Homo sapiens: one gene and its partners. The protein of the gene in region 1 purifies or fractionates together with the protein of each later gene. This does not show direct contact. Each region holds a gene or a part of one and is shown in the gene's direction. Other genes may lie near its edges.

What was found. The genes of interacting proteins can lie anywhere in the genome.
Region 2: the proteins of ANAPC7 (region 1) and MDC1 purify together in Homo sapiens (affinity purification with western blotting; 2 studies listed by BioGRID, with this or other methods). This does not show direct contact.
Region 3: the proteins of ANAPC7 (region 1) and TRIM33 purify together in Homo sapiens (affinity purification with western blotting, with the first as the bait; one study listed by BioGRID). This does not show direct contact.
Region 4: the proteins of ANAPC7 (region 1) and NAP1L4 fractionate together in Homo sapiens (co-fractionation; one large-scale study listed by BioGRID). This does not show direct contact.

The regions. Positions count from the first base shown.
Region 1 is NC_000012.12:110,385,677-110,391,052, reverse strand, and holds part of ANAPC7 (anaphase-promoting complex subunit 7), read left to right. Parts: intron 1-2,429; coding exon 2,430-2,541; intron 2,542-3,160; coding exon 3,161-3,314; intron 3,315-4,583; coding exon 4,584-4,726; intron 4,727-5,376. UniProt on the Homo sapiens protein: Component of the anaphase promoting complex/cyclosome (APC/C), a cell cycle-regulated E3 ubiquitin ligase that controls progression through mitosis and the G1 phase of the cell cycle.
Region 2 is NC_000006.12:30,703,782-30,707,426, reverse strand, and holds part of MDC1 (mediator of DNA damage checkpoint protein 1), read left to right. Parts: coding exon 1-43; intron 44-1,328; coding exon 1,329-3,645. UniProt on the Homo sapiens protein: Histone reader protein required for checkpoint-mediated cell cycle arrest in response to DNA damage within both the S phase and G2/M phases of the cell cycle.
Region 3 is NC_000001.11:114,424,204-114,427,848, reverse strand, and holds part of TRIM33 (E3 ubiquitin-protein ligase TRIM33), read left to right. Parts: coding exon 1-101; intron 102-554; coding exon 555-672; intron 673-2,125; coding exon 2,126-2,400; intron 2,401-3,093; coding exon 3,094-3,258; coding exon of another isoform or gene 3,259-3,278; intron 3,279-3,645. UniProt on the Homo sapiens protein: Acts as an E3 ubiquitin-protein ligase. Promotes SMAD4 ubiquitination, nuclear exclusion and degradation via the ubiquitin proteasome pathway. According to PubMed:16751102, does not promote a decrease in the level of endogenous SMAD4.
Region 4 is NC_000011.10:2,985,830-2,989,474, reverse strand, and holds part of NAP1L4 (nucleosome assembly protein 1-like 4), read left to right. Parts: intron 1-203; exon of another isoform or gene 204-346; intron 347-1,348; exon of another isoform or gene 1,349-1,398; intron 1,399-3,645. UniProt on the Homo sapiens protein: Acts as a histone chaperone in nucleosome assembly.

The DNA.
Region 1 (5,376 bases):
GCACCTGCCTAATTTTTTGTATTCTAGTAGAGACGGGGTTTCACCATGTTGGCCAGGCTGGTCTCGATCTCCTGACCTCGTGATCCACCCACCTCGGCCTCCCAAAGTGCTAGGATTAGAGGTGTGAACCACTGCGCCCGGCCAATAATTGACTTTTTCATTAGGTATTACTCAAAACTCATTCTTTTAAAGTGACAGTCAAGTAGCTTAAAGGAAATTTTGATATTTGTTGAGAAAGATAGTCCATCAGTCATAGTTTGTTAATATAACCAGCAGTCAAGAAAGGATCTTAAATTTAACTTTTTATTCTTTACAAGTATTGACATCAATCCTGGAGTTTTCCTTTTAAGTATTTTTCTTTGCATTTTCAAAATAGTAGCCTAATATGGAAAATCTGAGGCCAAGTAAAAAATAGTTTTATTTTTAGTATTTCATTATTCCATTGTTTGAATTAGTGTGAATCAATGCTATATTAGATTGTTTTATATAATGTAGGTCTATAATTGGAACAGATGTTCTTTATCTTTAGAGCCACTCTTTCTATAAATATCTGGCATACCAAGCCACAGTTAAATCGAAGAGATTGGGGGTTGACCTTTTTTCTTTTGTGCCCTCACATTGACTGCTTCCTTAGGTTAATGATCTAGCAAATACTGTTGTGTTTAAAATCTACTAATTTTGCCAGACACGGTGGCTCACGCCTGTAATCCCAGCACTTTGGGAGGCCGAGGTGGTTGGATCACCTGAGGTCAGGAGTTCAAGACCAGCCTGGCCAACATGGTGAAACACCATCTCTACTTAAAATACAAAAAAAAAATTAGCTGGGCGTGGTGGCGGGTGCCTGTAATCCCAGCTACTCAGGAGGCTGAGGCAGGAGAATCACTTGAACCCAGGAGGCAGAGGTTGCAGTGAGCTGAGATCGTGCCATCGCACTCTAGCCTGGGTGACAAGCGTGAAACTCCGTCTCAAAAAAAAAAATCTAATTTTAAATTGGAATATTGTGTTTATCTGTGTACTATTAGGAAGGTCTTTTATCACTTGCCTATAACTTCTACATTCTTAGGAACTTTTAGATTTTCTGGCTTTTTTTTTGTTTTTGTGGGTTTTTTTTGTTGTTTTTTGAGACGGAGTCTCGCTCTGTCTCCCAGTCTGGAGTGCAGTGGCACGATCTCGGCTCACTGCAAGCTCTGCCTTCCGGGTTCACGTCATTCTCCTTCCTCAGCCTCCTGAGTAGCTGGGACTACAGGCGCCCGCCACCACGCCCAGCTAATTTTTTGTATTTTTTAGTAGAGACGGGGTTTCACTGTGTTAGCCGGGATGGTCTCAATCTCCTGACCTCGTAATCCACCCACCTCGGCCTCCCAAAGTGCTGGGATTACAGGCATGAGCCACTGCGCCCGGCCAGAACTTTTAGATTTTCTCATTTCCCAGTTGCATGTTAGGTAGGATTATTTTAATTTAGCTTTACAAAGTTACATATTTAAATTACGCTAAAATGCAGCTGTCTGCACTCACTGGATTTAAATAGTGTAGCTGATTTTTGTAGCATTACTTTAGTGAGTTAGTACCTACGGGCCAAAGCCTTAAGTGTTAGAAAGGCTAGAGTCTAGCCACAAGTCGAATTGTCAAAGAAAAGCCAAGTATTATACTTCTTTATCTGTCTTTCTGTATCATTTCCTTATTAGGAAAAACTGAGCTGATCCTTCTTAACTAGCTATGTCAAGAGTTTCTCACTTTCTTATGTGAGATAGTTCATCTTCTGTTTTAAGATCAAGAAAGAATCAAGTTAACTAGCGTTCTCTACCATTTCTTAAATGAATGTTATTCCAGTTTCCAGAGGGCAGCGTCTTTTGTTCAGATATTACTGGGCCTTGTGGGAAGGTAATGTGACTTTCCTCTTAGGGAAGGCAGGAGCTAGGGAAAGGAAGGGTAGTAATTTCTTTTCTTTTCTTTTTTTTTTTTTTTTTTTTTAAGATGGAGTCTCACTCTGTAGCCCAGGCTGGAGTGCAGTGGCGTGATGTCGGTTCACTGCAAGCTCCGCCTCCCGGTTTCACACCATTCTCCTGCCTCAGCCTCCCGAGTAGCTGGGACTACAGGCTCCCGCCACCACGCCCAGCTAATTTTTTTGTATTTTTTAGTAGAGACGGGGTTTCACTGTGTTAGCCGGGATGGTCTCAATCTCCTGACCTCGTGATCCACCCACCTCGGCCTCCCAAAGTGCTGGGATTACAGGCGTGAGCCACTGCACCTGGCCAATTTCTTCTTTCTTTTGAAGAATGGGGTCAGTCTGCCTTTATTTGCACAGGGTTGTGGGTAGATTTTCCAGTAAAAAGTAAATAACTGGTAATGAAAATTAGGACTTTTTCATGGTGAGAGATTTTCTTTGCAATATACGCTTATTTTGCTATCTGTTATTTGTGTTTGTACAGATAAACATGATGCTGGCAAACCTGTACAAGAAGGCTGGTCAGGAGCGCCCTTCAGTCACCAGCTATAAGGAGGTGCTGAGGCAGTGCCCATTAGCCCTTGATGCCATTCTAGGTAGAGATATTTCCTGCCTGTTTTCATGGCATGTTTACTGTCAAAGATAGTAGTTCTCAATCTTGCCTGTACATTAGAATAACTTTATTTTTTTTAAAAGTTCCCCTGAAGAGAGTGATTTAGTAGGATTCCTGTTGTCACATATTCAATCAAGAAATACTTAATTATGGTTTTTGGCCGGGCATGGTGGCTTACACCTGTAATTCTAGCACCTTGGGAGGCTGAGGTGGGTGGATTGCCTGAGCTCAGCAGGTCGAGACCAGCCTGGGCAACATGGCACAACCCCGTCTCTACTAAAAATACAAAAATTAGCCAGGCATGGTGGCGCGTGCCTGTAGTCCCAGCTTCTCGGAAGGCTGGGGCATGAGTATCGCTTGAACCCAGGAGGCAGAGGTTGCAGTGAGCTGAGATTGTGCCACTGCATTCCAGCCCAGGGGGACAGAACAAGACACTGTCTCAAAAAGAAAAGAAATACTAAATTATGGTTTTTCTCTCATGCATCGCTCAGAATAGGGAAGCAGTTGCCTTTTAGCCAAGGGAAGATGTAGCCCGTTGCTCCTTGCATGTGGAAGAGAGATATCGTGCCTTACTTTCTTTCTTCTGCTTTCTGTTGGTTTAGGCTTGTTGTCCCTTTCTGTAAAAGGGGCAGAGGTGGCATCCATGACAATGAATGTGATCCAAACCGTGCCTAACTTGGACTGGCTCTCTGTGTGGATCAAAGCGTATGCTTTTGTGCACACTGGTGACAACTCAAGAGCAATCAGTACCATCTGGTGAGAGCCACAAAGTTAATTCAGTGTTCTTGAGGCCCTTTGCTTGTCTGGAAGTCTGATGTATCTGAAGTAGCAAAAAGAAAAATGAGATGCTTTGCTGTTGGTGCTGCAGCCAGTCTCTGGGATGTGTTAGTCTTTTATACTGAATGGTCCCAAATGTAATCATGTAATCATCTCTGTTGGAGACCTGTAAAAATAGAAATCTGACTGAGTTTAGCTCTGTGCCTGCACAGGTAGTAACCCTTGCAAAGCAAAGCAGGCTACCTTGGTGTGTCATTTTTTTTTTTTTTTTTGAGACAAGGTCGGTCTCTCTCTCTCTCTCTCTCTCTCTCTCTCTCTCTCTCTCTCTCTCTCTGTCTCTCTCTCTCTCTGTCTCTCTCTCTCTGTCTCTCTCTCTCTCTGCCTCTCTCTCTCTCTCTGTCTCTCTGTCTCTCTCTCTCTCTCTCTCTCTGTCTCTCTCTCTCTCTCTCTCTCTCTCTCTCTGTCTCTCTGTCTCTCTGTCTCTCTCTCTCTCTCTCTCTCTCCCAGGCTAGAGTGCAGTGGCGCAGTCACAGCTCAGTGTAGCCTTGACCTGTCAATCTCCCGGGCTCAAACCATCCTCCTGCTCAGCCTCCTGAGTATCTGGGACTACAGGCGCATGCCACCACACCCAGCTAATTTTTGTATGTTTTTGTAGAGATGGGATTTCACCATGTTGCCCAAGCTGGTCTTGAATTCCTGGGCTCAAGTGATTCTCCCACGTGGGCCTCCCAAAGTGCTGGGATTATAGACGTGAGCCACCATGCCTGGCCTTGGTGTATCATTCTTCAGCCTGGAAGAAAATCATTTTGCACTCACCAGAAGCTTGGTTTATTGCAGTGTCTAACCTAGCTTGCCTGCTTAGGACTAGGGATTTTCTTTATATTCAGATAAAGTTCAAGGACAAGAAGAGACTTGGGCTTGTGTTATGCAAAGTCGTTTACTTGAGTAATAAATAGGTGTCACTTGTGAATGACATTACCTTTAACACCATGTAGCGTATGTTGTGTTCTGAAGAACTGCAACCACAGAGTTATTTGTTGGTACTGAGAGACTTCTGCTTTATTCTTTGTTTTTGCTATCCTGTCCTATATAACTTTTTTTAAAGTCATAAGCTTAAAGTTTTTTATTACGAAGAATTTTATATTTATGCAAAAGAAAATAGTATCTGTATGACCAATCATCCAGATTCAGCAACTAAGAGGATTTATAATAGATTTAAAGGTTCAATGTTTAATAAATATCTTAAAGTTCACTAGAGAAAAAATCCTTATTGCGAGATAACGTGGACCTATTGGGAAGCTTGGCAGATCTGTACTTCAGAGCTGGAGACAATAAAAACTCTGTCCTCAAGTTTGAACAGGCACAGATGTTGGATCCTTATCTGATAAAAGGTAAGTAATTCTTGGGGCAGGAAGACAGTGGCTGTTGTTGGGGGGGATCAGAGATAATAGGGAGAATATGCAGCATTAATACTCGATACCAAGTTTCATAGAAATGGTGTATAAAACTTATACTAGTCTTTTACTTTTTTTAGGTCATGACACATGTCTCTAACGCTTAGGTAATACCATTTGAGCAGCTGTTTTTGCTTGAATTCAAGTGTCTTCTCCCCACAGATCATTATTTGGCTTTTTTTCTTTTGAGGGGGTCATAGCTCCTCCTTATGACTTATAAATTTATGGTGTGCCTGACTGAGAATTTGGATGGCATCCCTAAAACCATAATATCCTTTTAGGGAATTTTGTTTTGCCATGTCCTTAGTATAATTAAAAAGGAATAAGAAAGGGATAAGGTGATTAAAGGCAGTAATTAGGCGTGAACAACAGAAAAATCACTGATCTTGAAAAAGATTGCAGGTGAAGGGTAATCTTCACAGGGACCTCCAACAGATGGCAGTTAGGACACTGGCAGTGAGTTCTCAGGAATAGTGGGAAATAAGGTCAGATAGATATGCTGTCTATTTGTAAAGGTCCAAAAAAGGCCATCAGAAAAACAGGGCCTTGTGACAATAAACAGTCTTATGAGCTCTTAAGCCAGGGGA
Region 2 (3,645 bases), on another chromosome or scaffold:
TGAGAAGGCTTCCAGGATCAGAGCTGCTGAGAAGGTTTCCAGGGTGAGAGCTACTTTTTCTACCTCCTATTCCACAAGTCATCTCTATATCTTCTCCAATGCTCTTTCACCTAGCCTCACTTTAATCTATTCCTTTCTCATTATTCAGTTTTCTTCCATTTTTGTCACGCCTTGATTGGCTTCTATTCCTTTATCCTCGGCACCCGTTGTTTTCCATATCTGTTTCCTAAGTTGTATCTCCTACCTGACTCAAAAGAAAGACCCTTCGTGTTTCTTCTTTCTTTGCCCCAGCCATCCTTTTCCTTACCATCATCCACGTGTGGAGAACACTATAGTAGCATTATGGAGACAGGTCTGTGGGAAAAAGGTAGCTTCCCAGGTAGATCCCAGTCTAATGGAGGAGAGATCATAGACAGAAAGGAAAATCCAGTGAGCATATTTTTTGTTTTTGTTCTTTTTTGAGACAGAGTCTGTCTCTGTCACCCAGGCTGGAGTGTGCAGTGGCGTGATCTCAGCTTACTGTAACCTCCGTCTCTTGGGTTCAAACAATTTTCCTGCCGCAGCCTCCCAAGTAGCTGGGACTACAGGCGCATGTCACCCGGCTAATTTTTGTGTATTTTTTTGTTTTTTTTGAGACAGTCTCACTCTGTCACCCAGGCTGGAGTGCAGTGGCGCGATCTTGGCTCACTGCAACCTCTGCCTCCCGGGTTCAAGCGACTCTCCTCCCTCAGCCTCCCAGGTAGCTGGGACTACTAGGCGCCTGCCAACACACCTAGCTAATTTTTTTTTTTTTTTTTTTTTTTTTTAGACAGAGTCTTGCTCTGTCCCCCAGGCTGGAGTGCAGTGGCACCATCTCGGCTCACTGCAAGCTCCGCCTCCCGAGTTCACGCCATTCTCCTGCCTCAGCCTTCCAAGTAGCTGGGACTACAGGCGCCCGCCACCACGCCCGGCTAATTTTTTGTATTTTTTAGTAGAGACGGGGTTTCACCGTGTTAGCCAGGATGGTCTCGGTTTCCTGACCTTGTGATCCACCCGCCTCGGCCTCCCAAAGTGCTGGGATTACAGGCATCAGCCACCATGCCTGGCCTTTTTTTTTGTATTTTTAGTAGAGACGGGGTTTCACTATGTTGGCCAGGCTGGTCTTGAACTCCTGACCTCGTGATCCGCCCGCCTCGGCCTCCCAAAGTGCTGGGATTATAGCCGTGAGCCACCACGCCCGGTGGAAATCTGGTAAGCCTATCTAACCATAAACAAGTATCAAGAACAGTATCCAAGTTCTATCTCTTTTCTCCACCTCCTCCCCCTCACTTGCTTCTGTTTCTCCCTAGGGCGATCAGGAATCTCCAGATGCTTGTCTGCCTCCTACAGTACCTGAAGCCCCAGCCCCACCCCAAAAGCCCCTTAACTCTCAGAGCCAGAAACATCTTGCACCTCCGCCCCTTCTTTCTCCCCTTTTACCTTCTATCAAGCCAACCGTTCGTAAGACCAGGCAAGATGGGAGTCAGGAAGCTCCAGAGGCTCCCTTGTCCTCAGAGCTGGAGCCTTTCCACCCAAAGCCTAAAATTAGAACTCGGAAGTCCTCCAGAATGACACCCTTTCCAGCTACCTCTGCTGCCCCTGAGCCCCACCCTTCCACCTCCACAGCCCAGCCAGTCACTCCCAAGCCCACATCTCAGGCCACTAGGAGCAGGACAAATAGGTCCTCTGTCAAGACCCCTGAACCAGTTGTCCCCACAGCCCCTGAGCTCCAGCCTTCCACCTCCACAGACCAGCCTGTCACCTCTGAGCCCACATCTCAGGTTACTAGGGGAAGAAAAAGTAGATCCTCTGTCAAGACCCCTGAAACAGTTGTGCCCACAGCCCTTGAGCTCCAGCCTTCCACCTCCACCGACCGACCTGTCACCTCTGAACCCACCTCTCAGGCTACTAGGGGAAGAAAAAATAGATCCTCTGTCAAGACCCCTGAACCAGTTGTCCCCACAGCCCCTGAGCTCCAGCCTTCCACCTCCACAGACCAGCCTGTCACTTCTGAGCCCACATATCAGGCTACTAGGGGAAGAAAAAATAGATCCTCTGTCAAGACCCCTGAACCAGTTGTGCCCACAGCCCCTGAGCTCCGGCCTTCCACCTCCACAGACCGACCTGTCACCCCCAAGCCCACATCTCGGACCACTAGGAGCAGGACAAATATGTCCTCTGTCAAGACCCCTGAAACAGTTGTCCCCACAGCCCCTGAGCTCCAGATTTCCACCTCCACAGACCAACCTGTCACCCCTAAGCCCACATCTCGGACCACTAGGAGCAGGACAAATATGTCCTCTGTGAAGAACCCTGAATCAACTGTCCCTATAGCCCCTGAGCTCCCACCTTCCACCTCCACAGAGCAGCCTGTCACCCCTGAGCCCACATCTCGGGCTACTAGGGGAAGAAAAAATAGATCCTCTGGCAAGACCCCTGAAACACTTGTCCCCACAGCCCCTAAGCTCGAGCCTTCCACTTCCACAGACCAACCTGTCACTCCTGAGCCCACATCTCAGGCCACCAGGGGCAGGACAAATAGGTCCTCTGTGAAGACCCCTGAAACAGTTGTCCCCACAGCCCCTGAGCTCCAGCCTTCCACCTCCACAGACCAGCCTGTTACCCCTGAGCCTACGTCTCAGGCTACTAGGGGAAGAACAGATAGATCCTCTGTCAAGACTCCTGAAACAGTTGTCCCCACAGCCCCTGAGCTACAGGCTTCCGCCTCCACAGACCAGCCTGTCACCTCTGAGCCCACATCTCGGACCACTAGGGGAAGAAAAAATCGGTCCTCTGTCAAGACCCCTGAAACAGTTGTGCCCGCAGCCCCTGAGCTCCAGCCTTCCACCTCCACAGACCAACCTGTCACCCCTGAGCCCACATCTCGGGCCACTAGGGGCAGGACAAATAGGTCCTCTGTCAAGACCCCTGAATCAATTGTCCCTATAGCCCCTGAGCTTCAGCCTTCCACCTCCAGAAACCAGCTTGTCACCCCTGAGCCCACATCTCGGGCCACTAGGTGCAGGACAAATAGGTCCTCTGTCAAGACCCCTGAGCCAGTTGTCCCCACAGCCCCTGAGCCCCATCCTACCACCTCCACAGACCAGCCTGTCACCCCCAAGCTCACATCTAGGGCCACTAGGAGAAAGACAAATAGGTCCTCTGTCAAGACTCCCAAACCAGTTGAACCAGCAGCCTCTGATCTTGAGCCTTTTACCCCCACAGACCAGTCCGTCACCCCTGAGGCCATAGCTCAGGGTGGTCAGAGCAAAACACTGAGGTCTTCCACAGTAAGAGCTATGCCGGTTCCTACCACCCCTGAATTCCAATCTCCTGTCACCACAGACCAGCCTATTTCCCCTGAGCCTATTACTCAACCCAGTTGCATCAAGAGGCAGAGAGCCGCTGGGAACCCTGGCTCCCTCGCAGCTCCCATTGACCATAAGCCTTGCTCTGCACCCTTGGAACCTAAATCCCAGGCCTCAAGGAACCAAAGATGGGGAGCAGTGAGAGCAGCTGAATCCCTTACAGCCATTCCTGAGCCTGCCTCTCCCCAGCTTCTTGAGACACCAATTCATGCCTCCCAGATCCAAAAGGTGGAACCAGCAGGTAGATCTAGGTTCACCC
Region 3 (3,645 bases), on another chromosome or scaffold:
ACATCACAGGCCTTTCCCGGCAGGTGAAGCATGTTATGAACTTCACAAATTGGGCAATTGCAAGTGGCAGCAGCACAGCACTACTATACAGCAAGCGACTGGTGAGACACATACTGTTTTTATTTTTCTTTAATGGACTTTATTAAGATATATATTCAGTGAATTGCACCTGTTTAAAGTATACATTTTAATTTTGGCAAATGTAACCACCACCACATCAAGATACAGAAAACTTCCACCACCCCCCAAAGTTTCCTCATTCCACTAGGCAGCCACTAATCTGATTTCTGTCATTTTTTAGAATTTCATATAAGTGGAATTATATAGTATGTACTCTTTTGAAGATACCTAGTATCTTAATGCACTTTATTACCCAAAATGGCAGAAATTCAAGTATGTATATTTGATTTGATTGCTAATTTAAATGTTGATGCTGCCTAATCTGAGGCTGACACTGTGGGAATATATGTGCTTTTTTTTCTTAATGTCTTTATCTTATGATTTCCCAATTGATATTTAATTTTGAGACTAATGTGGATTTTTTTCCCTTTAAGATTACTTTCCAGTTGCGTCATATTTTGAAAGCACGGTGTGATCCTGTCCCTGCTGCTAATGGAGCAATACGTTTCCATTGTGATCCCACCTTCTGGGCAAAGAATGTAGTCAATTTAGGTGAGAAATAATGAGTTTTATGAATATAACTTGGAACACTGAATTAGAAGGAGAAAATACTTAAAGCAAATTTAGATAAAATTTTTAACTTTATAAAACTAATGTTTTACATTTTATGTAAAAATATGTTGTTATTCATTGGAAACTCACTTTAGCTGTGGTTTTGTGTGGCTGTTATTACATCTTAAGAAAGTTGAGCGTCTACTCTGTATATTGTTTTTTAATGTGTGCTGTTTCTAGTCCCCCGACCCTCCATCTTTTAAATTTATATTGACTGTTTCATATAGAAATCTTAGCAAATGATTCATTGTCTGGAATAATTTCATAGATTTTTAGTTGTTTAATTAAGCCAAATTGTGCATTAGCAACAGACTTTTAGGATGCTAATGTGTCCAGTAGTTAGGTCCTGAGGAATGTTTGAAAGATAAGAGTAGCTCTTTTCACATGGAAGAGAAATGGATTTTCCTTTTGTTACAGCGTAGTATGGACCTAAAGACCATAGATGAAAGTTACAGAGAGCTCAGTTAAAACACATGCACACAAACTTCCTAGCAATTAGAGAGCTATTTACAGATTGAGTAAACTCACTTTCAGAACAGTTAAGTCCTAAACAGTGGGAATTGTAAAAGCAGAGGCTGGTTGCCCTTTTTTTTTAAAAAAAAAAAAAAAGTAATCTTTGCATATAATAAAAAAAAATTATATTCAAATTTAGCTATAGCCTTAGTTCTGACATCAGCCAGCTGTTTTTGTGTGACGTAGTAGCTAAGAATGGTTTTTACATTTTCAACTGGTTGTAAAAGCAAACAAAAACCAAGGACTGTGAGACAGATCTTATGTGGCCTGCCAAGCATGAAATATTTACTCTATAGCCCATTACAGGGAAAGCCTGTCAACCTGTGCCTTAAATCACATCTTCCTAAAATTTGGCTTCTATCCCTAGAAGGCAATGGCTCCATAAAAAGCAAGGAAAACCATCACGTCTAAGGATATAAGTTGTTTAAAGCATTCAGTATTTCCACAGAAGACGATTTTGTGACATTGTAATGCTCTGCCTTGCATATTTTGGCAATTCAAAGGCAGATGGAATCAGTATTGGCAATCTTGAGTATCCTTGAGTAAGTCTTGTCATGGGAGAATTGATTTAGATTGATTAGATAGGCCTCTTCTAATAGATAATCTCTTTTACTGTCTTAATTTTCTGTATGTCTAAGTAAAAAAGAATAAGGACAGAGAGTATATTTTTCTGAATAACCAAACGTCATTTATTCAGCTTTGGAATGTATTAAGTTTCTGATCATCATCATCATCTTTAAACTGACTCCATTCCCTGCTGTACTGTTGGAGCTTTGAGGTGCTGATAGTTGTCAGAGGAAAGAGGAAAACATGGTGATTACTCAACAAAGTAGATGATTTAGTTGATTATATGCAAATTCTCATTTTTTAAATTTTTCAGGTAATCTAGTAATAGAGAGTAAACCAGCTCCTGGTTATACTCCTAATGTTGTAGTTGGGCAAGTTCCTCCAGGGACAAACCACATTAGTAAAACCCCTGGACAGATTAACTTAGCACAGCTTCGACTCCAGCACATGCAACAACAAGTATATGCACAGAAACATCAGCAGTTGCAACAGATGAGGATGCAGCAACCACCAGCACCTGTACCAACTACAACAACAACAACACAACAGCATCCTAGACAAGCAGCCCCTCAGATGTTACAACAACAGGTAAGTATCGTGTTACTACATTATTGATAGAAATTATGAAGCCCTCAACACTACACTTTTTCCTATATAATTAAGTTACACATTTCAAAGTTACTAGCAAGACTGAGCAGAGTTCAAAAGTCAGAGTTTAAATATTTGCTATGGTTATGATGGTGATGTAAGGGAGCTGTGAAGAAAGGCAGTAAGTAAATTGTCTTGGGAAACAAAATTAATTCACTAATACTCTGAAAGGATGTAAGTTCTCATCCTTTCACATCAAATCTTTTTTGTTTTCCACGTATAATTTTGTGGACCAAAGGACCAGACTGTTTCTGCCTAGGATCTGATATGTTCCTTAGGCATTTGTTCAGATCTTTCCTATACCTGTGTGTCTTTTGCTCTCTCCACTGCCATCCCAATCAAAACTATTACTCCAGGATGGGATACGTTAATGTTGATACGCTTTAAACACACATATAGAGAAAAAGAGGGGGAACAGGTAAGAGAGAGAGAGAGAGACAAGGGAAATTAGGGAGTGATATACAAACTAGTCATTACCAGTCCTCTGGGGATTGGGGCTAGCGATAAGAATTATTTATACTTTTTACTTTATACCCTTTTATCTTGACTGAATTATTTTTATGATTACATTTTATAATTGAGATAAATTTATTTTAAAATTATTACATAAATTGCAATTTCTACTTTTTGTAGCCTCCTCGATTGATCAGTGTGCAAACAATGCAAAGAGGCAACATGAACTGTGGAGCTTTTCAAGCCCATCAGATGAGACTGGCTCAGAATGCTGCCAGAATACCAGGGATACCCAGGCACAGCGGCCCTCAATATTCCATGATGCAGCCACACCTCCAAAGACAAGTATGCCTAGAGTTACATTTGTAAGAATCCTACAATTTTAAAATTAAAAGACGTCATTTTCTTAATCACTTTTTGGGAGCAGGTCATTGATGTGTTTGAGAATTTGATTAATGCTGTATATCCTCTTGTCCCAGAAAAATAAACATACACATGAGATTTTGTATTTAATTTTAAGAGCTTTTAAAAAATGCTTTAAGTGCATCATATACTGTGGGTTAAGAAACCCTGATGTAGTTAACCCATTCAATTTGCAGAAGTGAAAAAAATCTAATGAGCTGGTGATTTTACCCACAATCACAAAAAGCAATGATAAAATAGCAAGAACATTAGTTTCCTGAAAATGCTGCTCTGCTCTTTTAATGTGGCTTTTTGATCCTAATATATAAA
Region 4 (3,645 bases), on another chromosome or scaffold:
TGTTTTGGAAGAAAAATACTTTGTGGGCAAGAAGGTGATTTAAATTCCTGACGGCCTAAGAGGCGTCAGCTGTGTGAAATAGGCGAGTGCTGTTACTGCTTGAAACCATGATGGTTTATATTTGAATAAGACAGCAGAGATGAGCTTGTTGGGAGTTTGGCCTGAGATTGCTAGCTAAGGAATGCTTGCTTTTTTGCTTAAAGGGAAAAGTGTTTTAGGCTTCCAGAGTAGAAATCTGATATTACTTCGTTTGATTCTTCGACCACTATGGTGATAGGAAGTAGCTGATCTCTGCAGGAAACTGCTGTTACCTGGCCTCAGCTGAATTTTTGTGGGACCTCCTGAGGTAAGCAAATTTATGCCTCCCGAAACTATAGTTGTAAGGTTTGTCTTTGAGCATATAGTAATGGAAAACCCTTATCAGTAGGTAGATAGTAAATAATTTTGTATTTGGCTGCTAATGAAATTTTTAAGAAATAGTTTGTGGTGATATAAATTAGTTTTCATCTGGCAGTCATTGGTTTTCCACCCTGCCCTCTTAAGAGAGAACAGGGTTGCTTTACTTTGTTTGCCAGAGCTTTACATTTTGCATTTAGTAACAGAGGCATTGTGTTTTTATAGTATGAAAACAACGAAAGATCACTTTGTGATCTTTACTTTTTGATTTTGACCACTTCCTGTGTAACCTTAAGTTTCTTACAAGTATCCCCTGTTAACTGTTAAAAACGAAATGTATGTTCATTTCATGTCCTTGGGACTTTTAAAAATGCGCTGTGCATTATCTGGAAAAGCCTGTTCAAAAACAAGATGAGATAATTTCTGTTTAATTTGTGGTAGAAAGAATGACTGTGCACTTTTATGTGCAAAGGTTTTAAGTATAATAATTAAAATAGTACTTGTTTACTCAGTTACCGAAAAGTAGCTTTCAGTGATTTGCATCTGTTTACTTATTCATGAGCATCTTCTATGTACTGGGCACAGTTCTAGGTACTGGGGCCTCCCGCAGAATAAAACAGAAGTCTTTGTCCTTGTTTCTGCTATGGGAGACAGACGAACAAGTTCAATGGTGGCAGGTGCTTTTGAAAAACAGTGCAGAGGAGTAGGGACTTTGGTGGTTGCAATATGAAATAGGTAGAGAGGGAAGTGCCTTATTGACAAGATGACAAGATCTTTTAATATGTACTGGATTAAGAAGTTAGCCTCATTGAGTCGTATGCTAATGAACTGCCCAGAAAAGAAGGGTGGAGGAGATGGGAGTGCAGCAGTAAAGACTGCTGCGCCCCAAGTAAAATGTAGTGTTTTGGTTAAGGAAAGGAAATCATTTTTTGCTTTCTTCTTGAAACCCCAGGGCTTGGCACCGCAGAAGTCTCTGAAGAGACAGTCTGCTGCTGTTTGGAGGCAGGTATTTCAGTAGATCTTGTAACCAAACATGAATGACTAAGGCAGTGTTTCTCCTCTGTGTCTTCAGAAACTGCTTGAGATGTGTGCATGCAGTCCCGGGCACCATGCGTGCTGGGTACTGGTAACACAGAGACAAGTTGTCATTTGGTAGCAGTGAGTTAAGCAAAGATTTCTTGGCAACCAGTCTCATCCCGAGTCTGTTGCTGGGCCTTGGGACTTCTGTATTGAGCAAGTAGACAGGGTCCCTGCCCTCGTGGAACTTGTTCTTTAGTGGGCAAACATGTATTATTCATTGCTTTTTTTTTTTTTTTTTTTTTGAGGTGGAGTCTCGCTCTGATGCCCAGGCTGGAGTGCAGTGGCGCGATCTCGGCTCACTGCAGCCTCTGCCTCCCAGGTTCAAGCAATTCTCCTGTCTCAGCCTCCCAAGTAGCTGGGATTACAGGTGCTCACCACCACGCCTGGGTAATTTTTGTATCTTTTTAGTAGAGACGGGTTTCACCATATTGGTCAGGCTGGTCTCGAACTCCTGACCTCAGGTGGTCTGCCCACCTGGGCCTCTCAAAGTGCTGGGATTACAGGCGTGAGCCACCGTGCCCAGCCTATTCATTGCTTTTAAACATTATCATGGGCCTGGCATGGTGGCTCACGCCTGTAATCACAGCACTTTGGGGGAAGCTGAGGTGGGCAGATCACCTGAGGGTCAGGAGTTTGAGACCCTCTCCCGCCTTGGGTGACAGAGCGAGACTCCACCTCAAAAAACAACAACAACAACAAAAAACCCAGAACATTATCATGGAAAGTTTAACAACATGATTAACTTCTGATCCTGGAGAGTGGTAATGATAGACTGGATCAGGAGTCTACTGGCCTGGGCAATAGAAATGAAATCTGGACTGTCTCAGGGCTTCGTATAATCACCAGCTTTTGTGGGTGGGGATGTTGGGGTGTCCTACAGGGGTATCTTGATTCCTTCTGAGAACAGATCATTTCTTTGTCCTTTCTGATGTCCTAATCTAAAACATCCAGTACTCCTGGAGGATTTGAACTTGTGCCCAATGGCTGGTCAGACTCTCTTGGATTGAGAATGTTGGATTGCCATTCCTCAGACTGAATGTGGGCCAAGCAATTGTGCTTTAGAAATTTATCTTAGAGTGCGGTGGCTCATACCTGTAATCCCAGCACTTTGGGAGGTTGAGGCAGGTGGATCACCTGAGGTTGGGAGTTCGAGACCAAGTCTGGCCAACATGGTGAAACCCTGTCTCTACTAAAAATACAAAAAAAAAAAAAAATTAGCTGGGCATGGTGGTGGGCACCTGTAACTCCAGCTACTTGGGAGGCTGAGGCAGGAGAAACTGGGAGGTGGAGGTTGCAGTGAGCCGAGATCGCGCCACTGCACGCCAGCCTGGGCAACAAGTGCGAAACTCTATCTCAAAAAAAAAAAAAAAAATTTACTACCATCCCTAATTTTGTAGGATATATAGGATTTGTAAGGAAATTATAAGGAGTCTTGTGAAAACATTAATTACATTTGAATTAATTTTAATCCTTCAGTTATCTCCCATAAAGACATTGAGGACCTTTGAGTTTATTAAGACAGAGTAAATATATAAAAGTTTTGGGGAGTACGACTACACTCTCTAGCTTTGTCTCTCAAACGTGGCCCAATTTTTTTTTCCTTTCTTTTTCTTTTTTTTTTTTTTGAGACAGGGTCTGGCTCTGTCGCCCAGACTGGAGTCTAGTGGGGCAATCTTGGCTCACTACAACCTCCGCCCCCCAGGTTCAAGCAGTTCTCCTGCCTCAGCCTCCTGAGTAGCTGGGACCTCAGGCGTGTGCCACCATGCCCAGCTGATTTTTGTATTTTTAATGGAGATGGAATTTCACCACGTTGGCCAGGCTGACCTCGAACTCCCGACCTCATGTGATCCGCCCGCCTTGGTCTCCCAAAGTGCTGGGATTACAGGCGTGAGCCACCGTGCCTGGCCATGGCCCAATTTTATAGTTACTCTAGCTATGGAGTAGATGTTTTCAGTTCAAAATTAGGAATTTAAGGTTATATTTTGTTACAAAAATCTTTAAAAATTTCATAAGAAAACAGTTGTTTGGGGTACAAAGAAATTAATCCATAAATAGGATTGTTACAGTGACTAATATAAATAAAAGAACATTTGTGTAATCATGGGAATTATTTTATTTTATTTTTCCTCGACCCAATTAACTGGGTGAAAATTTGCTTGCCAGTTCAGA